5 separate regions of the Homo sapiens genome follow, and regions 2, 3, 4 and 5 are each linked to region 1. The links come from fine-mapping of genetic effects on gene expression. A gene starts in region 1. Each other region holds a variant in brackets. All regions are shown on one strand. Distances are from middle to middle.

Region 1 (5,102 bases):
AGCTAATTTTTGTTTTTTTAGTAAAGAAGGGGTTTCACCATGTTGCCCAGGCTGGTCTTGAATTCCTGGGCTCAAGCAATCTGGCTGTCTTGGCCTCCCAAAGTACTGGGATTACAGGCATGAACCACCGCACCCAGCTCATCTGAATGCTGTTGATTTATTAATATCTTTTCCCAGCACAGACGCATAGCCTGCTCTTTGTCGTCCATTGACATTCGTGACATTCCTTCTCTCCCACCCCTTTGCCCCCTGCAGGGAACCCCCTGCCAGCCTAGGGTTACACCTGCCACCCACTCCTCTGGAGCCTAATCAGCTGGGAGAAGGCTCCTGGGTCCCTGTCTAAGGTCTTTTTTTTCTTTTTTTTTTTTTTTGAGACAGAGTTTCGCTCTGTCGCCTAGGCTGGAGTGCAGTGGTTCAATCTTGGCTCACTGCAAACTCAGTCTCCTGGGTTCAAGTGATTCTACTGCCTCAGCCTCCTGAGTAGCTGGGATTACAGGCGCGCGCCACCACGCCTGGCTAATTTTTGTATTTTAGTAGAGACAGAGTTTCACCATGTTGGTCAAGCTGGTCTTGAACTCCTGACCTTGTGATCCGCTCGCCTCAGCCTCCCAAAGTGCTGGGATTACAGGTGTGAGCCACCGTGCCCGGCCTCTGTCTGAGGTTTCTTCCAAGGAAGGAAGGATTTTTGTTCAGAGGTGGCTGCCCCTGTCTGACATCTGGTCCAGGAGCCCTTACTCTAGAGACCGTTGAGTTGTTTGTTGGGCTTTGGGTATCTGTGAAGAGGCCCTAAAAACTTTCATCGATTCGTTTACTCATTTAACAATTAATCTCTCTAGGGTGTGGTGGCTCAGCCTGTAATCCCAGCACTTTGGGAGGCCAAGGCGGGTGGATCATCTGAGGGTGGGAGTTCAAGACCAGCCTGACCAACATGGAGAAACCCCACCTCTACTAAAAATACAAAATTAGCTGGGCATGGTGGCACATGCCTGTAATCCCAGCTACTCGGGAGGCTGAGGCAGGAGAATTGCTTGAACCCGGGAGGCGGAGGTTGCCGTGACCCCAGATCTCGCCGTTGCACTCCAGCCTGGGCAACAAGAGTGAAACTCTGTCTCAAAAAAAAGGTAGAAAAATTAGCCAGGGATGGTGGCTCAGGCCTGTGATCCCACCTACTTGGGAGGCTGAGATGGGAGGATCGCTTGAGCCCGGGAGGTCGAGGCTGCAGCAAGCGGTGATCACGCCACTGCACTCCAGCCTGGGCAACTGAAAGCAACCTTGTCTCAAAAAAATGAAAAAAAAAAAACAAAAAACAAAAAAACCTCAGAAGCAAGACTTTCCTTGGCTCAGAGGTTTGCCTCCCAGGGACACAAAGGGAGATCAAGTGATTGCCTTTTGGGGAGAGTGGAGACGGGCTTCCTGCATTTCCAGTGCCTGGGTGGGCCACGTAGGGGTGTCCGTGTCTCTGAACGCATCCGTGCCCACCCTCACCCCTTGGGTTTTGGGAAGGACTAATGAAATCATGAAAACTGACTTCCTTGGGGCTTGACCTGGGGCTGCTCTAAGTGCGCTACAGGTAACGCCATTAACCCGTGCAAGACCCAATGAACAGACGCTATCATAAGCCCCACTTTTCAGGCGAGCAAACAGGGGCTCGTGGCTATCGATGCCATGGAGCCTTGGCCCAGAACCTGGGGTCTAGAAATCGTGGCCTCTCTCTCCTCTCACCGCCCTCTTTCTGGTCGGAGTGAACCCCCCAGAGAAGGGAGGGAGACGGCAGGGCCTGACGGAAGCCCCGGGAGCTGCACAGAGAGGCGGAGGGAGCTGCCCTAATAAGGAGAGGCCCGGACTTGGGCATATCTGCAGAAAAACCCTTCCCCACTAGGCAGGCGCGGGGGAGGGCGTGGAGGGGCGGGGTGGTGCCGCCCCCGGGGCGGGCCCAGTGCGTGGCAGCGGGACCTGCGGCCCCGTCGCGAAGTTTCCAGCCCTGCGAGCGCCGCCGGGTCGGCCGATCGTCCCCCATACCTCGGCCATGCGGCCCCTGCTGCTACTGGCCCTGCTGGGCTGGCTGCTGCTGGCCGAAGCGAAGGGCGACGCCAAGCCGGAGGGTGAGGGAGCGAAGGCCGGGGGCGGGAGCGCGGATCCGGGCGGGAGGGCTGGTGTCGGGCTGCCTCCCTGGGAACGACCTGAATGGGAGGCCTGGGCTGGAGAGGGAGTCTGGGTTCCGGCTCCTTGTCCACTTAATCGCTGGTGACTTGAACAAATCACTTCCCCTCTTGGGGCTGCGGTTCCTGCTTCGGGAAGGAAAGGGTGACAGCTGAGTCCCATTCAGCACAGAAAGGCTCAAATAATAATAGTTTTCATAATAATAACCGACAATGGCTATTCTGCCCAGTGCTCACTATGGGCCAGGCATCAGTTAGGCATGATTGCTACCCTGGTAAGTGTTTCCTTCTATTATCCCCGTTTTCCAGCTGGGCAAACTGAGGCTCCAGAGTTCATTCACTTGCCCAAGATCATACAACTTGTGGGCCTTGGAACCAGGATTTACCCCACCCACCCAGGTGTCTGGTTCCAGAGCCAGGAGGCCTCATGACCATGGGAATGAGGGGTCTTGAGGGGGACAGGGGAGGAATGGGGGTAGAAGGTGTGGCTCACTTTGTGGATAAGTTTGTGCTTTCATCCATGTCCCCTGTGGTCTGCTTAGCCCCTGCCAGGGTGGTCTTCCTCTCTGCAGTTTATTTTTTTTATTTTACTTAATGTATTATTTATTTAGTTATTTATTTATTTTTGAGACAGAGTCTTGCTCTGTCGCCCAGGCTGGAACGCAGTATGCGATCTCGGCTTACTGCAACCTCTGCCTCCCAGGTAAAAGCAATTCTTTTTTTTTTTTTTGAGATGGAGTCTCGCTCTGTCGCCCAGGCTGGAATGCAGTGGCACAATCTCAGCTCACTGCAACCTCCACCTCCCAGGTTCAAGTGTTTCTCCTGCCTCGGCCTCCCAAGTAGCTGGGATTACAGGCACGTGCCACCATGCCTAGCTAATTTTTGTATTTTTAGTTGAGATGGGGTTTCACCATGCTGGCCAGGCTGGTCTTGAACTTCTGACCTCTTGATCCGCTGGCCTCAGCCTCCCAAAATGTTTGGATTACAGGCGTGAGCCATCGCGCCCGGCCGGTTCAAGCGACTCCTGTACCTCAGCCTCCCAGGTAGGTGGGATCACAGACATGTGCCACCATGCCCAGCTAATTTTTGTATTTTTGGTGGAGATGGGGTTTCACCATGTTGGCCAGGCTGGTCTTGAACTCTTGACCTCAGGTGATCAGCCCACCTTGGTCTCCCAAAGTGTTGGGATTACAGGCGTGAGCCACCACACCTGGCCCTCTCTGCAGTTTATACTTGAGGAAACTGAGGCCCAGACAGGTGAAGTGACTGTCCAGGGTGGTCCAGACAGAGGTGGTTGGTCCGAGGTCAGCTGGGCTCCAGTCTAGCGCTCTTTCTACTTCCTCAAGGCAGATTGGATTGCAGTGTGTGCCCCACTGTCCTGAGTGGGTGCTTCCCTCCTCCCCAGCCCTCCCTGGCATGGGCCATCTCCAGGGCTGTCCCGAGAAGGGCATAGACTGCGGACAGTCCCAGCAAAGCCAAGCAGAAGTGGCGGTACTTTCCATGGCATTCTCCTCCTTCAGCTTACCCTCCTGGAGAACCTGAAACTGTATCACCAGAAGGATCCCGGGTTCTTTGGGTCAGGAATGGGAACCACCATTTATTTTATTTTATTTATTTAATTTTTTTTTGAGACAGTGTTTCACTGTGTCCCCCAGGCTGGAGTGCAGTAGCATGACCTTGGCTCACTGCAACCTCTGTCTCCTGGGTTCAAGCAATTCTCGTGCGTCAGCCTCCCAAGTAGCTGGGATTACAGGCCTGCACCACCACGCCCAGCTAATTTTTGTATCTTTAGAAGAGACGAGGTTTCGCCATGTTGGCCAGGCTGGTTTCAAACTCCTGACCTCAAGTGATCCTCCTGCCTCGGCCTCCCAAAGTGCTGGGATTACAGGTGGGAGCCACTGCACCCAGCCAGGAACCACCATTTCTTTTCTTTTCTTTCTTTTTTTTTTTTTGAGGCAGAGTTTCACTCCCGTTGCCCAGGCTGGAGTCCAATGGTGCGATCTCAGCTCACTGCAACCTCCGCCTCCCAGGTTCAAGCGATTCTCCTGCCTCAATCTCCCTAGTGGCTGGGATTACAGGCGGATGCCACAACGCTCAGCTAATGTTTGTATTTTTAGTAGAGACGGGGTTTCACCATGTTGGTCAGGCTGGTTTCAAACTCTTGATCTCAGGTGATCCGCCTACCTCGGCCTCCCAAAGTACCGGGATTACAGGCGTGAGCCACCGCGCCCGGCCAGGAACTGCCATTTCTTGAGTACCTCCCTCGGACCAGGTTGTGCCCAAGGCCCCACGTCTCCCAGTGGTAAAGCCGGCGGTGCTTGCTCTCTGTGAGGCTTGGTGTTCTAGCCTGCAAGACCCGGTGATACTACCTCACGCCTGGAGCTCTAACAAGAATTCCAGGGGATGAAGTTGGGGAGAGTTCAGCTCAATGCCTGGCCCATGAAAGGCCCTCGGCAAAGGGCATTTTCTCTCCCAGTCCCAGGGCTGCTGGCTTACAGCAGGGCAGTAAGACAGCTCAGAAAGTCCAGTGATGGAAACGCTGACCACCGGGCTGTGCAAAGGGCTCTCGGCCTGGGTCCCCTCACTGGCCAGGAGCCCTGTTGTGGCCTAGTTTTCTGGGCCTTTGATCCCCCTGCTTCTGCTGACATGGGGTGCCTGCATCCCAGACCATCCCAGGAGAGAAACCGCAGCTGCCCATGATGAAGCCCGGTGAGTTGAATTGAAGAGGGACCAGACTGATGACAGGGCGTTAGGCACCCTGATCCCCAGCAAGTGACAGGAGGAGGGCAGAGCAGATCCAAGGAAGCCTTCACAGAGGGTGCTGCTATGGGCGGAGGACAGGATCAGTGTGCTACTGAGGTAACCCAGGTAGAGCACCTGGTAGGTAGAAAGCACATCTGTGCTCACTGATGCACAAGAGAGCAGATCCCCAGGCCTGGGGCT
Region 2 (5,102 bases), 91 kb before region 1:
AATAATTCCACTCCAGAGATGGGGCTGCTTCAAGGTCTTTTCTAGCTGATTGTGGCCCCTCCATTTTCCCCATTTTCTTATCTCCCTGACCAAAATTGCTTTGACTTCTAAATGTTTCTGCTTCCCAGAATGCACCTGACTTATGAAATGGGGATAATACTCCCAGGAAATAGCGCAGGACATCACAAGGACCAAAAAGGCAATTCTTATTTAAATGTTACTATTTGGCCAGCTGCTGCTGTGTTTTATGGCAGTGTTCAGAGCTTGATCACGTTATTTCTTCCTTTTATTAAGAAGGAAGCCAATTGTCCAAGTCAGGAGAATGGTGTGATCACCTGTCACAGACACTTTGTCCCCTCTCCCCGCCCCTTCCTGGAGCTGGCAGAGCTAACGCCCTGCAGGAGGACCCCGGCCTCTCGAGGGCTGGATCAGCAGCCGCCTGCCCTGAGGCTGCCCCGGTGAATGTTATTGGAATTCATCCCTCGTGCACATCCTGTTGTGTTTAAGTCACCAGATATTTTGTTCCCATCAGTTTAGCCCAGAGATAGACAGTAGAATGCAAATACCTCCCTCCCCTAAACTGACTGGACGGCTGCCAAGGAGGCCCCAAACCCAGGCCCCATGCAAAGGCACGTGGTTTCCTTTTCTCCTCTCTCTGCATCTGCGCTTTCCAGATAAGCCCAAAGACAGCAACTTCTCCACTCATGACAAATCAACTGTGACCCTCGCTCCTTCCATTTCTGTCCATTAGAAACCAGCCTTTTCAGCATCTCACCCATTAGCAGCCCCATCACCCAGTGATCAGTCGCCTCAGTAAAGCAGATCTGTGGATGGGGAGCCTACGGGTGGTAAGAAGTGGTGTTTTGTGTTTCATCTCCAGCTTGGTGTTCCATGGCCCCTAGGCGAGGTGATCAGGGAGTGGGGCCAATGGGCCCCCGGCCCTGGCTTTGGGACCTTGTGCTGAGGGATGATTTGCTCCTGACCTTGATTAACTTAACAGTTCCCAGCTGGAAGGGACACTTTCAGGACCCAGTCCACTGTATGGCATTTGTGATGCAGAATTATGCACTGACATGACCCTGGGTGACAGGAAAGCCTTTCGAGAGGCCCAAGGTGGCCTCGCCAGCCCTGCAGTATTGATGTGCAGTATTGCACCACAGCTCTGCGGACCTTGGCCATTGCCGCAGTCGCAGCTTCCTTTTTTCTGTTTGCACTGTTTGTTTGTATGATGTTAGCTAATTCCACTGTGTATATAAATTGTATTTTTTTTAATTTGTAAAATGCTATTTTTATTTGAACCTTTGGAACTTGGGAGTTCTCATTGTAACCCTAACATGTGAGAATAAAATGTCTTCTGTCTCCTCTGTCTCCTTTAGCCTTTTGTCTCCATGCTGCTTTCTTTCTTTCTTTCTTTTTTTGAGACAGAGTCTCGCTGTCACCCAGGCTGGAGTGCAGTGGTGCCATCTCAGCTCACTGCAAGCTCCGCCTCCCAGGTTCACGCCATTCTCCTGCCTCAGCCTCCCGAGTGGCTGGGACTACAGGCGCCCACCACCATGCCTGGCTAATTTTTTGTATTTTTGGTAGAGATGGGGTTTCACCATGTTAGCCAGGATGGTCTCAATCTCCTGACCTGGTGATCCTACCCGCCTCGGCCTCCCAAAGTGCTGGGATTACAGGCGTGAGCCACCACGCCCGGCCCTGCTGCTCTTTCTTTCAAGGGATACTTGCTTTTTATTTTACTCCCCCTCTTTCTGATGTGTGGAAATTACACTAGGACGTAGTTTTAGAGTCTCAGAGCTCTCCCTATGCAGCTGGGCAGTGGGGCTCTTCATTCTTGCGGGTCCACTTCTCTGTATTAGACAGTGACCTTAATAAGAACAGATTTCATCCTGTGGATCTTAGCAGAGGTCACCGTTGTCTGTTTCTCCCTTCAGATGAACACTCTTCCTGATCCTCTCCTCTAGAATTCATCTCCTCCTGCTAGCAGCCGCGTCCTGGAGGAGCAGCGGATGGGGAATCCATTCTGTTTCTTCCTGGTGTTTAGGAAGTTGCCCCACACACAGATTGCCCCGATGTCCAACCAGAAGAAGTGAAACTGCTGCTGGGTCTGGAGAGGTGAAGACCCGTGGCCAGCTTCTGTTGTTGCCATCGGCCATTGCTTTTTGTTCGCTTGCTTTTGGTTTTGCAAGAAGAGCGGCCTCTGTCTCTGATCTGCTTCAAATCATCATTCCATCAGTGACAGAAGTGGC[T/C]GTTCCATCAGTGGTCGCAGCCAGTTCAGCTCCTGCATCCATCCCCAAGTGTTCTGTAAGTCCCAGGGGCATTTTCTGCCTTGTGTTTTTGTCATTTTTCAATCAGTTTCATTCAATGAGAACTCCCTGTGTTACCTGTGTTACGGTGACACCTTGAGAATGGGCTACTTCCCCTCCTAGCAACCCGCAACACCATCCCAGACCTCAGGAGCCAGGTTTGGGCCAGTGCTGTCTCCTGTCGCTCTTACTTTCATCCTTGTCATTCTCTACCCCCTGGTTTTCCTGGTATTTAAAGTCCAGGTAGAGAAGATTTTGACTGGAGGTGGTTAGGTGAGGCTCTCCCCCCACCTCAACCCCCTGCCATTAGTTCACTGGGAGCCTCCCCCTTTCCTCCGCAAGGAGCAAGTTACTACTTCATTTCCTCTTTTCCCAATTTCTGGACAAGACCAAGGCAATTTGACCAACATTTATGGGGCATCAACTCTGAGAGTGCTGAAGGGGCATTTGCCCTCAAAGAGCTTGCAGTCTAGGGACGTAGACACAAGCAATTGCACATAGGCAACTCGTGTTGTGTGCTATTATAACAGTTACATGTGCAACACTGCCTACGAAGGGACTCATTGTTACTAGGCATGAGGTACCAGGAAAGAAGTAGTGTTCATATGAGCCTTAAGAAATCAGTACAATGTCCTCGGGAGGACCAGAGGAAGGACACCCCAGGTGGAAGGAACAGCAGAAATAAAGGCACAGTGGCATGTGTGGGTGTGGGGTGTTGGAGTGTCATAGAATCTGATGAGGTTGGGATCCATGGGGGTAACAGGTGGGAAAACAGTTTACTCTGTTTAAGGTGAACTTATTGCCTGGTGTTTTGTGCTCAGAGCAAATACCCTCTTCAGGAGCAGATACAAAAAGCCGGCATCTTCTCCAGCAGCTCTTAGTAAAATACAAGCCCAGGCCCTTCAGACCCGGATTAGGCAAAGACTATGTCTGTTTTCCAAATACTTGTTAGTACACAAAAGGCACATGAACTTGTAGTTTGTCTGCATGGCAAACCTTTCTTCACTTTGCTCAGTTTTTATTTTTTTGAGACAAGTCTCATTCTGTCACCCAGGCTGGAATGCAGTGGCACAATACCAGCTCACTGCAGCCTCCACCTCCCAGGCTCAAGCCATCCTCCCACTTCGGCCTCCTGAATAGCTGGAACTACAGGTGCACATCATCATGCCTGGCTAATTTTTAAATTTTTTGTAGAGATGGGGTCTCACTCTATTGCTCAGGCTGGTCTTGAACTCCTGGGCTCAAGTGATTTGCCCACCTTGGCCTCCCAAAATGCTGGGATTACAGGAGTGAGCCACCACACCCGGCCTGCTCAGCTTTTAAATTCAACACTCTGCCTACTCTTTTCAAAACTAAAAGTACCATTACCTTAGCTGTAGAACCTAACTCTCTCGAAATGTACCAGAGAAAATCTAATTAATACTCTCATTTTCTGAATGTTCCCCCCTAAAAACAACAAAAACCCCACTAGGAGTGGAATTTGAGGCCTCCCCAACCACCTACCAAAAAAGGAGGGTGAAATGAAAGGAAGAAGAAAAACTCAGCATTCTTTCCTCTGACAAAGAGTAAAACGACAAGGAATATCGGCCTGAATTCTCTTCCCAAGAAGAAAGAAAGCACACCAACGCAGGCATTTGTCTTCTGTCCATGGTGCTGAAGTTTATTCACTTTCAAACCACTTTCAGTAACAGGTGAGGTTCTACCTTAAAATTTAATGCATGGGGTGGGAGAGGCGAGGAAGTCACCATCAAACCACTTTATCTACAGTTAGCATAAGATGTGAGAAGTGTTGACAGGAAGCTGCAGCTTAGATGGGATGATCACAACTCCATGGCAACAAGATGACACAAATGCAGCAGAGACCCCAGGGGACAGGAGCCTCTTGCAGTCTGTCCCTAGGCCCAGCCCTGCTTGTCCTCCCTGGCTGTTATCTTCAGTACTGCAAAGAGAACACAGACATATCTGGCTTGGTGACCTGGCTGTCCTGGAAAAGTCAGCTTCATGTATGAGTGTGCCCATCCTCTGAACTTGATTACTGACCACCTGCTTCCCACCGGCCCCCACCCCAGCCTGATGACCCTCTGAGCTTCATGAATTGATAAGCAAGTTACTCATCAGAGTAAATTTCACTTAAGCCCTTCAGGATCTTGCAATTCTGGGGAGGAATATGAACTGCTAATCAGCCATGCAAAGATAACTTGGCTCTATGAATATTTTAATTTCCCAGTGCTAGTGGCAGTTGCTTTTTTTTTTTTTTTTTTTGAGACGGAGTCTTGCTCTGTCGCCCAGGCTGGAGTGCAGTGGTGCCATCTCTGCTCACTGCAAGCTCCGCCTCCCGGGTTCACGCCATTCTCCTGCCTCAGCCTCCGGAGTAGCTAGGACTTACAGGCGCCTGCCACCACGCCTGGCTAATTTTTTGTATTTTTAGTAGAGACGGGGTTTCACCGTGTTAGCCAGGATGGTCTCCATCTCCTGACCTCGTGATCCACCCGCCTTGGCCTCCCAAAGCGCTGGGATTACAGGCGTGAGCCACCGTGCCTGGCCTTTTTTTTTTTTTTTTGAGACAGTCTCGCTCTATCACCTAGGCTGGACTGCAGTGGCGTGATCTCTGCTCACTGCAACCTCTGCCTCCTGGGTTCAAGTGATTCTCCTGCCTCAGCCTCCCAAGTAGCTGAGAGTACAGGTGCCCGCCACCACACCCAGCTAATTTTTGTATTTTTAGTAGAGCTGGGGTTTCACCATGTTGGCCAGGATAGTCTTGATCTCTTGACCTCATGATCCGCCTGCCTCGGCCTC
Region 3 (5,102 bases), 56 kb after region 1:
AACCCACCATGCCTGGCTGTTTTTTTTTTTTTTTTTAAATAGAGACGGGGTCCTACATTGCCTAGGCTTGTCTCGAACTCCAAAGTTCAAGTGATCTGCCTGCCTTGGCCTCTCAAAGTGCTGGGATTATAGGTATGAGCCACTGAACCTGGCCCCTAACCAATAGTGTTTTTATGTGGTCTTGCTCTGTCTCCCAGGCTAGAGTGCAGTGGACTGATCATAGGTCACTGCAGCCGAAACTCCTGGGCTCAAGTGACCCTCCCACCTCAGACTCCCAAGTAGCTAGGACTGCAGATGCATGCCACTGTGTCATGCTAATTTTGTTTTATTTTTTGAGACAAAATCTCGCCCTGTCACCCAGGCTGGAGTACAATGGCATGATCTTGGTTCATTGCAGCCTCCATCTCCCAGGTTCAAGTGATTCTCCTGTCTCAGCCTCCCAAGTAGCTGGGATTACAGGTGTGTGCCATTGGGTCTGGCTAATTACTGTATTTTTAGTAGAGACGGGGGTTTCACCATGTTGGCCAGGCTGGTCTTGAACTCCTGACCTCAGGTGATCCACCTGCCTCAACCTCCCAAAGTTCTGAGATTACAGGGGTGAGCCACCGCGCCCAGCCTGAGACACTGTTCTTATCTCACCGTCCTTTGTTCTAGTCCTGGAGGTTGCAGTGACCTGAGATCCCCATATTCTTGATTCTCCCCAAAGCATTCCGCCATCTCCCTAGCAGGATGTCCCGAGGTAGGTGTTGCTGGGTTCGCTCACGTTAGCTTCTCTTGCAGCGCAATGTCCCTGCTCTTCTCTCGATGCAACTCTATCGTCACAGTCAAGAAAAATAAGAGACACATGGCTGAGGTGAATGCATCCCCACTTAAGCACTTTGTCACTGCCAAGAAGAAGATCAATGGCATTTTTGAGCAGCTGGGGGCCTACATCCAGGAGAGCGCCACCTTCCTTGAAGGTAAGGGGGCACCGGCTCAGCCAGGCCCGCTCTTACCTGTTTAGATATTTAGCTAGTGGGATTTGCGGGTGGGGAGGTATATCTCTGCTCCCAGGGAAGTCATAACCAGATAGCCTTAGAAATGCTCTGCTCTTGAAATCATGTGGAATTGGAGTCTGGGGAGATGAGGCCAGGAAGACAAGGGAACTGCCATTTAGTAATTACTTTAAGAAGTCCACATGTTTTGTTTCATTTAATCATGAAAGATAGGTGAATCTTATCCCCATCTACAAGGCAAGCAAATTGAGGTTTGAGAGTTGTCCGATACCTTGTAAGTAATAGATCAGGGTTTTACCCAGGTGTCTCCAACTCCGGAGCCCACGTGTTTTCCTTTGCCTAGTTCTGGCTGCCATTAATACCAGGCACTGTTTGGGTGTCAGTGATCCCTGACCAGGGCGCCCTTTCTTTGATATTTTTAGATTGGTGACAGAACTATAGGAAACTCACGTCACCTATGCCTTTTCTACTAGTTACTAATTTGAGCCCAACCTCTAGTTCCTTGTCTATCAGCAGAGAAGGACTGGTTCCCAGGGCCCCGCTCGTCTGAGTGTCAACTCCAGCACTGGCTTCCTCAGGCTCCCTCTTTAGAAGGACACTTTGGCGCCAGGTCCTGAGATTGTCTGTGGAGACCCAGTAACTGAGTCTTATCTGCCCTTGGTTTCCTCACTTGTGAAAGTGGGGCTCAGGTGTGAACAGTGGTTTCAGATTCTAGTCTGCAGAACCCTAGAAGTTCAGTGGTGGTGCTTCGGGGGTTGGCCCCTGGCTCAGGGGGGCCACCTTCTTTCCATTCTGCTTTCAAATAGAGCAGCTTGGCTTCTCGTTGTTTTACATGCCAGGCTGCTACACGAGGCTCCCTTTGAAGAAAGAGACTGTCCAACTTCATGCCCTCATCTGTGCCCTGCCCTTTGCGTGGCGCTTGATGCCACAGAAGGTGTTTCCTAAATACTTGTTGAACTAAAACAAATCTGAATTTTAAAGTAGTATGATTGGTAGTTGAAATAATCCCAACTCATTGCCTGTTTATCAGTGGCTATGGTGTGCCAGCCGTGTGCCAGGTGCTGGGCATGCAGAGATGGGGTAGATCAGGCCGCTCCCCTCTGGGAGCCCAGACTAACCCTCTTGGAAGCTCTGAGTCACCTACTCAGATGATGTGGTGGACAAACACATGCGTAATGCAGGTGTTTATGTGATGCA[T/C]GCTTTGATTTCTCTGTGTGTGAAAATATGAGGCCTCCCCTGTTGTTTAAATGGAAGGGAAAGAGCTGGAGTGATCCTGAGCTGTGCTGGGTCAGGGAAAGAATGGTTCCTGCCTGGGCACTGTTTCTAACGGGCAGGTAACAAGAGCTTGTTGGCCTGCTGGCTCTCGCTTTTAAGTGTAGTCACATGCTTGAGAGCCAGCTTCCTCCGAGGGACATTCCAAAGGCCATGCCCAGGTGCCCATATAAGGGAGGAATATTGATGCATCTGGGGCAGAGGTGACCGGTGGACATAGCGGGAGGGGAGATGGGGGTGTTGTTGACTTGGTCATTTCCTTTCATGGCGCTGGCTGTGGGGGAAATTCACTGGGCAGGCCCTTGTCATGCTTCAGATGCTTTCGGAGTGTTCTCAGGGCTGGGGCCTGTCAGCCTCATAGTTCCCAGGAGTGTGCAGAGGGGCTAAACACCCGTCTGTGTTCCAGCCAGCTGAAGCACCTGTCTGGTGCGAGTTCTAGACAGGACAGTGGTGGGATCTCACTCAGTTGCTCCTGTATGGAGTAATTTGTTGGCCATCTGCCTGTTAAGGGCACTGGGAAAAAGCAGTGCAGTGATCCAAAGGTCTGCTCACGTAGCAAACATTTGTGCACCTGCTGGGTGCTGGGGTCAGATAGTGTGGCCCTCATGAGGCAGATGACACAGACAGGTGAGCTGTACAGTTACCTTATGGTGAGGTGAGAGCTGAGATGGGAGAAGTGCAGGGTGCTGGGGCACACAGAGAAGGGGTCCGGGGTCCTGACTCAGGTTAGAGGGGTGGTCAGAGAAGGCTTCCTGGGGGCAGTGCTGTCTAAGCTAGACCGGAGGCCAAGTGAGAATGAGCCACGCTGCCCCAAGGCAGTGTAGTGTGTCAGTTCTTCAGAGAGTGGGGAGGGGGTTTGGGCAGCAGGGAATGGAGCCAGAGGGCCGAGGAAGCTGGTGAGTTTGGGGATATGGTGAGGGAGACCGTGAGGCAGCGGGTGGCAAGAGGCCAACAGGGCCAGGGCAGGGAGGGCCTCAAGAAGTGACATAGAGGCCGGGCGCGGTGGCTCACGCCTGTGATCCCAGCACTTTGGGAGGCCGAGGCGGGCGGATCACGAGGTCAGGAGATCGAGACCATCCCGGCTAAAACGGTGAAACCCTGTCTCTACTAAAAATACAAAAAATTAGCCGGGCGTAGTGGCGGGCGCCTGTAGTCCCAGCTACTTGGGAGGCTGAGGCAGGAGAATGGCGTGAACCCGGGAGGCGGAGCTTGCAGTGAGCCCAGATCCCGCCACTGCACTCCAGCCTGGGCGACAGAGCGAGACTCCGTCTCAAAAAAAAAAAAAAAAAAAAAAAAAAAAAGAAGTGACATAGAGTGGTTAAGAGCCTGGACTCCAGAGCCAGGCTGCCTAATTCAAATCATAGCTCTGCCTTTTACTAACTCCGGAGCCATGTTAATAAAGAGGACCAAAGGAGAGAATGAATTTGAAAAGTGAAAGGAACAGTGCCTGGCATGTGGTAAGAACTTCGTAAATATTTGTTAAGAAAAAATAAACAAGGAAGGCAGTTAACATTTAAGTATTCATCTTCTACCAGCCGCCATTCACAGCATTTGTGTTTCAATTCGTTTGATCCTCACGATGTTCTCATGAAGTAGATAATGTAGTTATCTCCGTTTTGTGCTTAAGGAAACTAAGACCCAGAAAGGTTCTTTTGCTTGAGGCCACAGAGCTAGAAAGTGGTAAGAACCAGCTTCAGAACCAGGCAGTGTTGCTCCTGAGCCATCTTCTTAACCACCACACCGTGGGGCCACCATAGAGGATCTGGAGCTCAGCCTGTCGGCTGCAGGGTGCCAGAGGTGGACTCGTTTAGGGTAAGCAGGGCCGGCGCTCTGGCCCTTCCAGACTTGGGACTGTGGAACTCCTCTGACCACGTGGTGACCCATTTTCAATCCCCACCTCCAGACACGTACAGGAATGCAGAACTGGACCCCGTTACCACAGAAGAACAGGTTCTGGACGTCAAAGGTTACCTATCCAAAGTGAGAGGCATCAGTGAGGTGCTGGCTCGGAGGCACATGAAAGTGGCTTTTTTTGGCCGGTAAGTCCTTGAGGCACCCACCCTTTCTTTCTTCCTGGCTAGGAGGGAGGGAGGCACTTTGTGCAAGGTCACAGAACGTTCCAGGCAGGGACATGCTTCAGAATTCATTGCTTTCCTCTTAATTTATATTTTATTTATTTATTTGATTTTTGAGACAGGGTTCTCTGTCACCCAGGCTGGAAGCTCATTACAGCCTCGACCTCCCTGGGCTCAGGTGATCCTCCCACCTGAGCCTCCTGAGCAGCTGGGACTGCAGGTGCATGCCATCAAGCCTGACTTTTTTTTTTTTATTTTCTAATTAAGGTTAAAGGCATATAATATAAAATTTACCACCTTAACCATTTTAAGCATACAATTCACTAGTAGGTATATTTGCAACCAGTCTCAAGAGCTTTTTCATCTTGCAGAACTGAAGCTTGTATTATAGCCATTAAACAATAACTCCCTGTCCCACATGTCCCTTGCCCTGGCCACCACCATTCTACTTTCTGTCCCTATGAATTTGACTATTCTAGATGTCTCACGTAAGTGGAATCATACAGTATTTGTTTTTTTTTCTCCATTCATAAAACTTTTATTCCACTTACATGAATTTAATACACGTGTTCTTAACAATTGTGCTTGTATTGTTCATGAAAATTTCGTAAGACATTAAACAAAGCTAGCCATCATCTCAAGTTATTTCCCTGTTAACTATTTTTACAGTGCATGCATGTTAGGCAAGCATCAAAAAAAAATCACAAAAGCAAAGAATCTAAAAATATGCCGGGCATGGTGGCTCACACCTGTAATCCCA
Region 4 (5,102 bases), 29 kb before region 1:
GTGGTTATTGTTACAAAACACACACACACACACACACACACACACAGAAAATTTAAACTAGAAACTATTGAAAATGTGTTGGGTGCAGTGGCTCACACCTGAAATCCCAGCACTTTGGGAGTTGGGAGGATCACTTAAGCCCAGGAGTTAGAGACCAGCCTGGGCAACATAGTGAGACCCCATCTCTATTACAAATAACAAAATGTAAACAAATTTTCTTTAAATAAAGAAACTATTGAAAATGGGGATGAGTGGAAACTGGGCGAAGGGGCTAGGGACAGGAGTGGGACTTCTCTGAATATATGTTTTTACATAGTTTTGATCTTTGAGTCTTGCATTTTTCATTTTCAAAAAGGAAAAATCTTAGCCGGGTGTGGTGCTGCATGCCTGTAGTCCCAGCTACTTAGGGGGCTGAGGTGGAAGGATTGCTTGAGCCTGGGAGGTTGAGGCTGCCGTGAGCTGAGATTGTGCCACTGCACTCCAGCCTTGGTGACGGAACAAGACTCTGTCTCAAAAAAAAGAAAAAGGAAAAATCAAATTATAAAGAAAAATGTATTATGACTTAAATGGGCCTTATCTCAGGAATGCAAATAATTAACATCCAAAAATCTAGCAATGGCCCAGGAGCAGTGGTTCACACCTGTAATCCCAGCACTTTGGAAGGCCAAGGTGGGTGGGTCACCTGAGGTCAGGAGTTTGCAACCAGCCTGGCCAACAGGACAAAACCCCATTTCTACTAAAAATAGAAAAACTAGCCAGGCATGGTGGTGCACACCTGTAATCCCAGCTACTCAGGAGGCTGAGGCACACGAAACGCTTGAACCTGGAGGCGGAGGTTACGGTGAGCTGAGATCGTGCCACTGCACTCCAGCCTGGGCAACAGAGTGAGACTCTGTCTCAAAAAAAAAAAAAAAAATCTAGCAATGTAATTCACCATATTGCTGAATTCAAAGGAGAAAATTTATACAACTATCTCAATAGATTCTGAAGAGCATTTGATAAAAAAACTCAGCACAGAGAAACCTGATGATAGAAGGAAATTTCCCTAACATAATTAATACAGGCTGTATGTTAAAATCTTACACCAGGCCAGACGCGGTGACTCATGCCTGTAGTCCCAGCACTTTGGGAGGCTGAAGCAGGCAGATCATGATGTCAGGAGATCGAGACCATCGTGGCCAACATGGTGAAACCTTGTCTCTACTAAAAACACAAAAATTAGCTGAGCATGGTGGCGTGTGCCTGTAATCCCAACTACTTGGGAGGCTGAGACAAGAGAATCACTTGAACCAGGGAGTTGGAGGTTGCAGTGAGCTGAGACCACGTCACTGCACTCCAGCCTGGCAACAGAGCGAGACTCCGCCAAAAAAAAAAAAACAAAAAAAAAAACTCACACCAAATATCACACATAACAACGCATTTTCCCTGATCAGGGGAAATGGGCCAGGCATGGTGGTTCACACCTGTAATCCCAACACTTTGGGCGGCTGAGACAGGAGGATCACTTGAGGCCAAAAGTTTGAGACCAGCCTGAGCAACATAGCAAGATTACAGCTCACAAAAAATAAAAATAAACAAATTAAGCCTGGCCAATATAATGAGACCTAGTTTCTACAAAAAATAAAAAAAAAAATTAAAAATTAAAAATTAACTGGGCAACAGAGCAAGACCTCATCTCTAAAAATTAAAAATAAATTCAAAACATTCACAATGTTGTAATACCATCACTGCCATCCATTTCCAAAATTTTTCATCACCCGAAACAGAAACTCTATACGTTACCCAATAACTCCTATTATCCCCTCTTCTAGATATTTTACCTAAGTACAGTCACACAATCTATGCCTTTTTGTGGCTGGCTTCTTTCATGTAGCATGCATCCTCAAATTTCATCTACAATGTAGTGTGTACCAGAATTTCTCTCCTTTTTATGGCTGAATAGTATTCCATTGTATGGGTAAACCACATTTTGTTTATCCACTCATCAGCGGATAGACACTGGGATTGTTGTCATCTTTGGGCTGTTATGAACAACGCTGCTATTAATGCTCATGTAGAGTCATCTGTTTGAGTCCCTGTTTGGAAAT[CT/C]TTTTTTTTTTTTTTTTGAGACGGAGTCTTGCTCTGTCCCCCAGGCTGGAGTGCAGTGGCACGATCTTGGCTCATTGCAACCTCTGCCTCCTGGGTTCAAGCGATTCTCTTGCCTCAGCCTCCCAAGTAACTGGGACTATAGGGGCCTACCATGCCCAGCTAATTTTTGTGTTTTTAGTAGAGACGGGGTTTCACCATGTTGGCCAGGCTGGTCTCGAACTCCTGATCTCAGGGGATCCGCCCGCCTTGGCCTCCCAAAGTGCTGGGATTACAGGCCTGAGCCACTGCGCCCGGCCCCAAGTTTCTTTTTACTAAAGAGATTTCCATCAGATTTTTTTCTAAAATAGAAATACAAAGTAAAAGTGCTTTGCTTTGTTGTGGCTGATGGTGATGAGGTTTAGGAAGTCTTTCTTCCTTCCCCACTTCCTCCTTCACTCCTCTCTCTCTCTCTCTCTCAGGTTAGGAGGTAAGGAAGCCTACTCATCCGTCTAGAAGATGAGCCAGTAGGGGGGGTGTCCTAGTTCAGGTGCTATGACAAAATACCTTAAACTGGATAATTTATAAACAGCAGAAAGTTATTTATTGCTCACAGTTCTGGAGGCTGGGAAGTCCAACATCAAGGCATCAGCAAATTTGCTGTCTAGTGAAGGCCTGTTCCTCATAGACGGCGCCTTCCCTGTGTCCCCACTTGATGGGAGGGTGAAAGGGACAAACTCGCTCCCTCAAACCCTTTTATAAGGACACTGATCCCATCCATGACCCAATCACCTTCCAGAGGCCCCACTTATCAATACCATCACCTTGGAGATTACATTTCAGCCTGTGGATGTGTGAGTGGCCACGACATTCAGACCACAGCGGGAGGGACACGGAGGGTGCTGCTGGGGGATTGCATGGGAGGGGAGCCATCTTTGTGGAGTTGGGGTTCAAAGCCCAGGAGGAGGGCCGTTCATGGGAGGAGGCAGAAGATGAGCCAGATGCGGTTGCAGGCGGGCTGGGAAGATGAGGGCGTCTGGCCTCTCAAGGAAGCCCCTGGGATGTCGTGGGCTGACACGGTGAGTTGCAGAGGGGGAAGCTGAAGGGAGAGAAGGATTAAAAGGGGTGTTTGTGTGTTTGTTTGTTTTTTGAGACGGAGTTTTGCTCTTTCACCCAGGCTTGAGTGCAATGGTGCGATCTCGGCTCACTGCAACCTCCGCCTCCTGGGTTCAAGTGGTTCTCGTGCCTCAGCCTCCCAAGTAGCTGGGATTACAGGCACGCGTCGACACACCAAGATAATTTTTGTATTTTTAGTAGAGACGGGGTTTCCCCATGTTGGCCAGGCTGGTCTCGAACTCCTGACCTCAGGTGATCCGCCTGCCTCCACCTCCCAAAGTGCTGGGATTACAGGCGTGAGCCACCGCACTCGGCCTAAAAAGGACATCTTGAGGTGGGAAATGGAGCCAATCAGAGAAACAGGTGAAGTGGAGGCCTGTATGGGAGGTTCCCCTGCTGTGGAATTTTTCCAGCAGTTCAGCTGCTACAGGGCAGAGGCTGGAAAGATGGCCCTGGGATCTTCCCAGGTGAGAAGACGGAAGGAAAGAGGGGCCAGCAAAGGAGGGGCTGCAGGGGAGTGAGAGAACAGGGGTAGTGGGGGGGCCCAGGCTCCATGGACCACGATCACTGCGGGGAGGCACCTGCACCGCTTCTCCTTCCCATCTGCAACCAGGAGCCAGCTACCGCCCCCTCCCCATCTCCTGCCCCTCCTCACCTACTGTTTCCTTCCTCTCTCCCAAAGTGTTGGGATTACAGGCGTGAGCCACCGCGCCCGGCCAGGAAACCTCCTCTCTGCCCTCGGTTTCTGTGAGGCTCCCAGTCCAGGTTTTCCTCCTGCCTCCCTCAATTTCTCTAATCTCTTTCATAGGCTCCTGCACTGTCCCCTCCTTTTATGCCACCATCCCCCAGGGACCTTCCTTGGCCTTTTCTCTCCTCATTTCACAGCCTTTCCCAGGCCTTCCCCTGCTCAGCCAGTAATCTGTCTCCCAAACTCCTCACTCTCCATATTTCAGGCACAACAGTTGCCAACAGAGGTTCTCAATGTGGCCTCCATCAGAATCACACGGAGGATGAGTTCAGACTCAGGGGGCTGGGCCCAATCCCCAGGCCTGCAGTAGGTCTGGAGTGGCTAGAAGTGTAAGAATTTTTTTTTGGAGACACGCTCTCGTTATGTTGCCCAGGCTGGTCTTGAACCCCTAGTTCAGGCGATCAGCCTGCCTCAGCCACCCAAAGTGCTGGGATTACAAGGGTGAGCCACGGAGTCCAGCCAAGATAATTTTTTTTTTACTTTTTTTTTTAAGTTCAAAAAAATTCTTTACTTATTAGGCTAATTGTGCAATTAAAAAAAAAAAAAAATTGCAAAAACCGCAATTACTTTTGCACCGATCTAATAGCTCGCCCACTGTAAGTAAAGCAGGTAAAGTCAGCCTTTTTCTTCTGGGACCAGACTCTGCTCTGCCCCGCGGTGGTGGCCTCAGGCGCAGCGCTAAAACGCATGAACCATTTAAGGTATTTCCTGAAACTGGAGCGTGATTGGTGAGACTTTATTTGCATACCCACAATGCATTGCGCACTAAATAATGTTCGTCTTTAAAATTATTTCCCCTTTTTCCTTCAACATATCTTTCTCGGAACCGAGATTGCTGTCCCAGAATTGTCTGAAGAAAAAGGCTGAAGTCAATAGCTCTTTTGGGCCGAAGGAAAGTTACCATTACCCGTTTAGGAGTAGCCGTTACCTGAGAACTGTAGTGTCGACGACTGATGTTATACTCTGGTTTCTCTTCAAATCGTATAAATCTTTCGCCTTTTACTAAAGATTTCCGTGGAGAGAAACGAGTGTGAGTCTGAAACCAATTTTTTGAGGCCTTGCGTTTCTTAGCAGGGCTTATTTTAAGTGTTTTAAAAACAGATGCGATTCCGTTAAATCGCGTGTGGAGCTATGTAAAGTGTATTATAGAACAAATGCGAGTTACGGTTTTTCA
Region 5 (5,102 bases), 22 kb after region 1:
CCAGGTGAAGGAGTCCTGGGCTAGGGGCAGGAACTCAGCTGGTGGGACAGGCAGCTTGGGAAGCAAAAGGCTACTTGACCCTTGATGCCGCAAACATCCCTGGGCCTGGCCTCATGTCTGTGGCTGGTGATGACATTGCTTTGCCGCAGGTCTTCCTGTCTTCCTGAGTGACCTCAGGCAAGTCACACCTCCTCCCCACAGGGGACTCAGTTTTCTTATCTTTACAAAAGGGAAGTGAACCGGATCCACTGATTGCTGATTTTGTGGATAAATGGGCCCTTTTGAGAATCTGATGAAAGCTACGGCTCTGCTCCCAGAGAAACGCAGAAAATGCCCTTTGCCTGTGGTTTCTGGGGGTTAAGAAGCACTGAGTTCAGATCCACGCAGGTCAGGAGCTATCTGTTTTCCTTTTTTTTTCTTCTTTTTTAAGATGGAGTCTTGCTCCATCGCCCAGGCTGGAATGCAGTGGCGAATTCTCGACTCACTGCAACCTCCGCCTCCCAGGTTCAAGTGATTCTCCTGCCTCAGCCTCCCAAGTAGCTGGGATTACAGGCGCACACCACCATGCCCGGCTAATTTTTGTATTTTTTTAGTAGAGATGGGGTTTCACCATGTTGGCCAGGCTGGTCTCGAACTCCTGACCTCAGGTGATCCACCTGCCTTGGCCTCCCAAAGTGCTGAGATTACAGACGTGAGCCATCGTGCCCAGCCCTATTTTAATTTTTAAAATAGAGACAGGGTCTCACTATGTTGCGCAGGCTTGTCTCAAACTCCTGGGCTCAAGTGATCCTCCCACCTTGGCCTCCCAAAGTGCTGGGATTACAGGTGTGCGCCAGCGTGCCCAGCTGAAATACCCATTTTCCTATGTGCAGACTAATAGGGTCAAACATGGGTATTGGGGGCCAGGCACTGTAATCCCAGCACTTTGGGAGGCCAAGGCGGGTGGATCACCAGAGGTCATGAGTTCAAGACCAGCCTGACCAACATGGTGAAACCCCGTCTCTACTAAAAATACAAAAATTAGCTGGGTGTGGTGGCATGTGCCTGTAATCCCAGCTACTCAGGAGGCTGAGGCAGGAAAATCACTTGAACCTGGGAGGCGGAGGTTGCAGTGAGCCGAGATCATGCCACTACACTCCACACTGGGCAATAGAATGAGACTCCATTTCTAAAAAACAAAAAACAAAAACACACACAAAAAACATGAGTATTGGAACCCTGCTGCAGGGGCTCCCTCCACTGGGACAAGATCTGTCCTGATCATGCCCAGGCCTCCCCTGCATGTGGCTCTGGCATTTTCTCAGTGCTGCTCTGCCTACTCAGAGAAGGCGCGTCCCAGACCCTTTCTCTTGGGGCTTCTCTGAGGTGCCTGGAGCTGGGATGTTCCAGGTCTTCGTTCTTCTCCCAGCCCCTGCTTCTGACTGTAAGTAACCACAACAAGTACAGGGGTTGCCGTGGATTCTGTGCTCATGATGGGCCAGGCTTGGTGCCCCACGCTTGTTCAACACAAATCCTCCCCCTCACCCCATGAAGAAGGGATTATTCCTATTTTATAGATGAGGAAACTGAGGCTTAGAGAGAAGTGACTTGCCCGAGGACATAATCTACTCACTGCACAGCTGGGATTTGAGCCCAGCTGGTTGGACCCTGAGCCTGACCTCTGGGTCTGATGCTGGGTGGGACTGTGCTTTCTGACCCCCAGATGAGGTCGTGCTCAAGTTTGAAATGGGCCATGTGAGAGCGAGGAACCTGGCCTATGACACCCTCCCGGTCCTGATCCATGGCAACGGGCCAACCAAGGTAGGGGGTCCCCAGCCCCTGGGGAGTGTGGGAGGGGGCCAGAGCCCTAATTTCATTCTCACTGTGACCCCACAGTGTCTCCCTGGGGCCAGGGCCACCTTCCTGGGGCCTGCTATGAACTCACTGCCTCTGTCCTCACATCTGAGCTCAGCGTGATGCCTTCTTTTCCTGCTGTGGTGGTCAGTGGTACTCTGTCTGTTCTTGCTGGTCACAGGACACGTAGGAGGCTGCCATCCCCTTCCAGGCCTAGGCTGGGCTACCAGAGCCATCTGCACTGTCACCCCAGGGCAGAGTCACTTATTCACTCAGTAAACCTTTATTTCATGTTTGCACCAGACAGTAAGACATAGTCATAAGCAGGACGGATGTCCTGCATTCATGGTGACAGAAGGGACTGGGTGCAGATGCGGCCAGGGACAGAATGGACCTCACTGGTCCCTGGGGAACTGGCTCATAGCTCATAGCATATTTGAGTGTGGTCCTTCACCGCTGGAATGAGGGAGAGGAAGGAGGATGTGATGTGTTTAAAATGCAAATTTGCTGATTTCACCCAGGATCTGTTCAGATGGAATCTCTGAGCGGGGTGGGACCCAGGAATCTGCATTTTACAAGCTCTCGGGAGAAGCACTAGAGTGCCAAGCCCTCCCCTGCCCTCTCTCAGAGCGGCTTGGTGATCTCCTGGGGATGGAGCATTATCTCCAAGACCCTCTTAGGGAGTGGGAGGGGGCTGGATGGTGCTGACCCACTGGGGGCCCAGGGAGATGTGAGTCAGGGCTATGGCAGGTGGGGCTGGCTGGCTTCTCTGTGACCCCACGTCTCCCCGACAGCTGCAGTTGAACTACCTGGGCAACTACATCCCGCGCTTCTGGACCTTCGAAACAGGCTGCACCGTGTGTGACGAAGGCTTGCGCAGCCTCAAGGGCATTGGGGTGAGGCTGCGCCCAGGCCTGTGCCTGAGGGACACGGGGGGCTCAGTCCCCTGAGATGGCGAGATGGGTGATTCTGGAATAGACTCCATTGTCTTTGGTGGAAAGTGAAGGGGTCACCTCCCTGCCTGGGGTTCTATCCCGGTTGCCACCCAAGTGCCTCCTCCTGGAAGCCCTCTCAGATTGCATGTCTCTAGCTTCCCCCGAGATGTCCAGGTTCTGGTTTCTTCTGCCTGGTCCTTCAGGCTCTCCTGCAGCCCCCTCCCCATCCCATGAACCTCATCCTCATTTA[T/C]GACTCACCTCGAACACCACGCCAGCCACGATCTCCTGACAGCAGGCCCTCAACCGAGTCCTTGTTCCAGGCCTGGGCTCCTGCTGCTCTCTCCCCGGGGCACCCTCCTGCTGCTTCCCTGCCCCCCCGTACCCCCTGACTGGAGTTCCCCGGCCCGGGCACCTTTCTTGGGAAGTCTACATGCTTCTGATTCTGGCTCTGACTCCCTTGGGCCACCCTGGGGTGGAGTGGCAGTGCTGTGACTGGACACTGCTGGACTCTTGTGCCGCCCTCCCTGGTGCAGGATGAAGCTCTGCCCACGGTCCTGGTCGGCGTGTTCATCGAACAGCCCACGCCGTTTGTGTCCCTGTTCTTCCAGCGGCTCCTGCGGCTCCACTACCCCCAGAAACACATGCGACTTTTCATCCACAACCACGTGAGTAACAGGCGCTCTGTGGGGTCGTCATGTGGCTTAGATCCAGGGCCCAGCTTCACAAGGTAGCCCGAGACCTCTGAGGGTCTCACCGAATCTAGCTTATCTGGGCCAAATGACAATCACCAGTGGACTGTGTCCCCAAATCACTGAGTTAACTTTGGAGTCAGACTGGGTGAGTTTGAATCCCAGCGCCGCTATTTTATTGGCTGTGTGACCTTGGGCACATTACTCAACCTCTCTGTGCTTTAGTTTCTCATCTATAAAATAGGCATAAAAGTCGGGCGCGGTGGCTCATGCCTGTAATCCCAGCACTTTGGGAGGCCCAGGTGGGCAGATTATCTGAGGTCGGGAGTTCGAGACTAGCCTGACCAACATGGTGAAACCCTGCCTCTACTAAAAATACAAAATTAAGCTGGGTGTGGTGGCAGATGCCTGTAATCCCAGCTACTCAGGAGGCTGAGGCAGGAGAATCGCTTGAACCTGGGAGGCAGAGGTTGCAGTGAGCCGAGATTGCGCCATTGCACTCCAGCCTGGACAACAAGAGCAAAACTCCGTCTCAAAAAAAATAAAAATAAATAAATAAATAAATAAAATAAAATAGGGATAATAATTGTGCAATCACACAGAATTGCTGCAAGGGCTAAGCAAGCTGACATGCGAAGTTCGTAAAAGGTGCCTGGTGCACAGGACGCATCTAGTTGCTTCTAACTGTTGTCATCTTCACTTCCATCCCTGTCACTGTTAATCCTTCCTACCTTCCTAATTGTACCTGGTGGCAGTCAAATTGGTTTTCTTTTCTTTTTTTTTTTTTTTGAGACAGAGTCTCGCTGTGTCACCCAGGCTGGAGTGCAGTGGCACGATCTCGGCTCACTGCAACCTCTGCCTCTTGGGTTCAAGCGATTCTCCTGCCTCAGCCTCCCAAGTAACTGAGACTACAGGCATGCGCCATCACAACTGGCTAATTTTTTGTATTTTTTTTTTTTTTTTTGAGACGGAGTCTTGCTCTGTTGCCCAGGCTGGAGTGCAATGGCGTGATCTCAGCTCAGTGCAACCTCTGCCTCCCAGGTTCAAGCCATTCTCCTGCCTCAGCCTCCCGAGTAGCTGGGATTACAGGCGCCTGCCACCGTGCCTGGCTAATTTTTTGTATTTTAGTAGAGATAGGGTTTCACTATGTTGGCCAGGATGGTCTCGATCTCCTGACCTCGTGATCTGCCTGCCTCCGCCTGCCAAAGTGCTGCGATTACAGCCATGAGCCACCGCACCCAGCTGGATGGTTGTTTTTCCTTTTTTTTTTTTTTTTGAGATGGAGTCTTGCTGTGTCTCCCAGGCTAGAGTGCAATGGTGCGATCTTGGCTCACTGCAACCTCCGCCTCCCAAGTTCAAGCAGTTCTCTGCCTCTGCAACCTCCGCCTCCCGGGTTCAAGCAGTTCTCTGCCTCAGCCTCCTCCCGAGTACCTGGAATTACAAGTGCCTGCCACCATGCCCGGCTAATTTTTGTATTTTTAGTAGAGACGTGGTTTCACCATCTTGGCCAGGCTAGTCTTGAACTCCTGACCTGGTGATCTACCCGCCTCGGCCTCCCAAAGTGCTGCGAATACAGGCGTGAGCCACTGTGCCTGGCCTGGACTGTTGTTTTTCAAAGCGAAGTTGAGGATCACCTGGCACATTT

The links. PIP is the estimated chance that this variant, and not a neighbour inherited with it, causes the effect.
Region 2: its variant is fine-mapped to the expression of PLOD1 in whole blood (INTERVAL, PIP 0.91).
Region 3: its variant is fine-mapped to the expression of PLOD1 in whole blood (INTERVAL, PIP 0.94).
Region 4: its variant is fine-mapped to the expression of PLOD1 in monocytes (Schmiedel 2018, PIP 0.95).
Region 5: its variant is fine-mapped to the expression of PLOD1 in whole blood (TOPMed, PIP above 0.99).

The regions. Positions count from the first base shown.
Region 1 is chr1:11,932,754-11,937,855 of GRCh38, forward strand. It overlaps PLOD1 (procollagen-lysine,2-oxoglutarate 5-dioxygenase 1), which reads left to right and starts at 1,964. Exons shown (of 19, transcript NM_000302.4): 1 at 1,964-2,102. The coding sequence starts at 2,027. RefSeq lists enhancers at 747-1,672, 1,503-1,552, 1,673-2,596 and a silencer at 1,773-2,242.
Region 2 is chr1:11,841,770-11,846,871 of GRCh38, forward strand. CLCN6 (chloride voltage-gated channel 6) reads left to right here. Exons shown (of 23, transcript NM_001286.5): 23 at 1-1,361. It overlaps NPPA (natriuretic peptide A), which reads right to left. Exons shown (of 3, transcript NM_006172.4): 3 at 3,940-4,245. The coding sequence ends at 4,240. It also overlaps NPPA-AS1. Among named protein-coding and RNA genes, the nearest start is that of NPPA, 3.5 kb to the right of the region's middle. RefSeq lists an enhancer at 5,050-5,102. The variant T/C (reference allele first, on the strand shown) is at 2,250.
Region 3 is chr1:11,988,385-11,993,486 of GRCh38, forward strand. It overlaps MFN2 (mitofusin 2), which reads left to right. Exons shown (of 19, transcript NM_014874.4): 3 at 781-959; 4 at 4,171-4,306. The coding sequence starts at 785. Among named protein-coding and RNA genes, the nearest start is that of MFN2, 10 kb to the left of the region's middle. The variant T/C (reference allele first, on the strand shown) is at 2,193.
Region 4 is chr1:11,903,266-11,908,367 of GRCh38, forward strand. It overlaps RNU5E-1 (RNA, U5E small nuclear 1), which reads left to right and starts at 4,887; the gene lies at 4,887-5,007. RefSeq lists enhancers at 4,673-4,782, 5,015-5,102 and silencers at 4,953-5,002, 5,027-5,102. The variant CT/C (reference allele first, on the strand shown) is at 2,088.
Region 5 is chr1:11,955,215-11,960,316 of GRCh38, forward strand. PLOD1 (procollagen-lysine,2-oxoglutarate 5-dioxygenase 1) reads left to right here. Exons shown (of 19, transcript NM_000302.4): 7 at 1,703-1,800; 8 at 2,628-2,729; 9 at 3,302-3,433. Among named protein-coding and RNA genes, the nearest start is that of MFN2, 23 kb to the right of the region's middle. The variant T/C (reference allele first, on the strand shown) is at 3,019.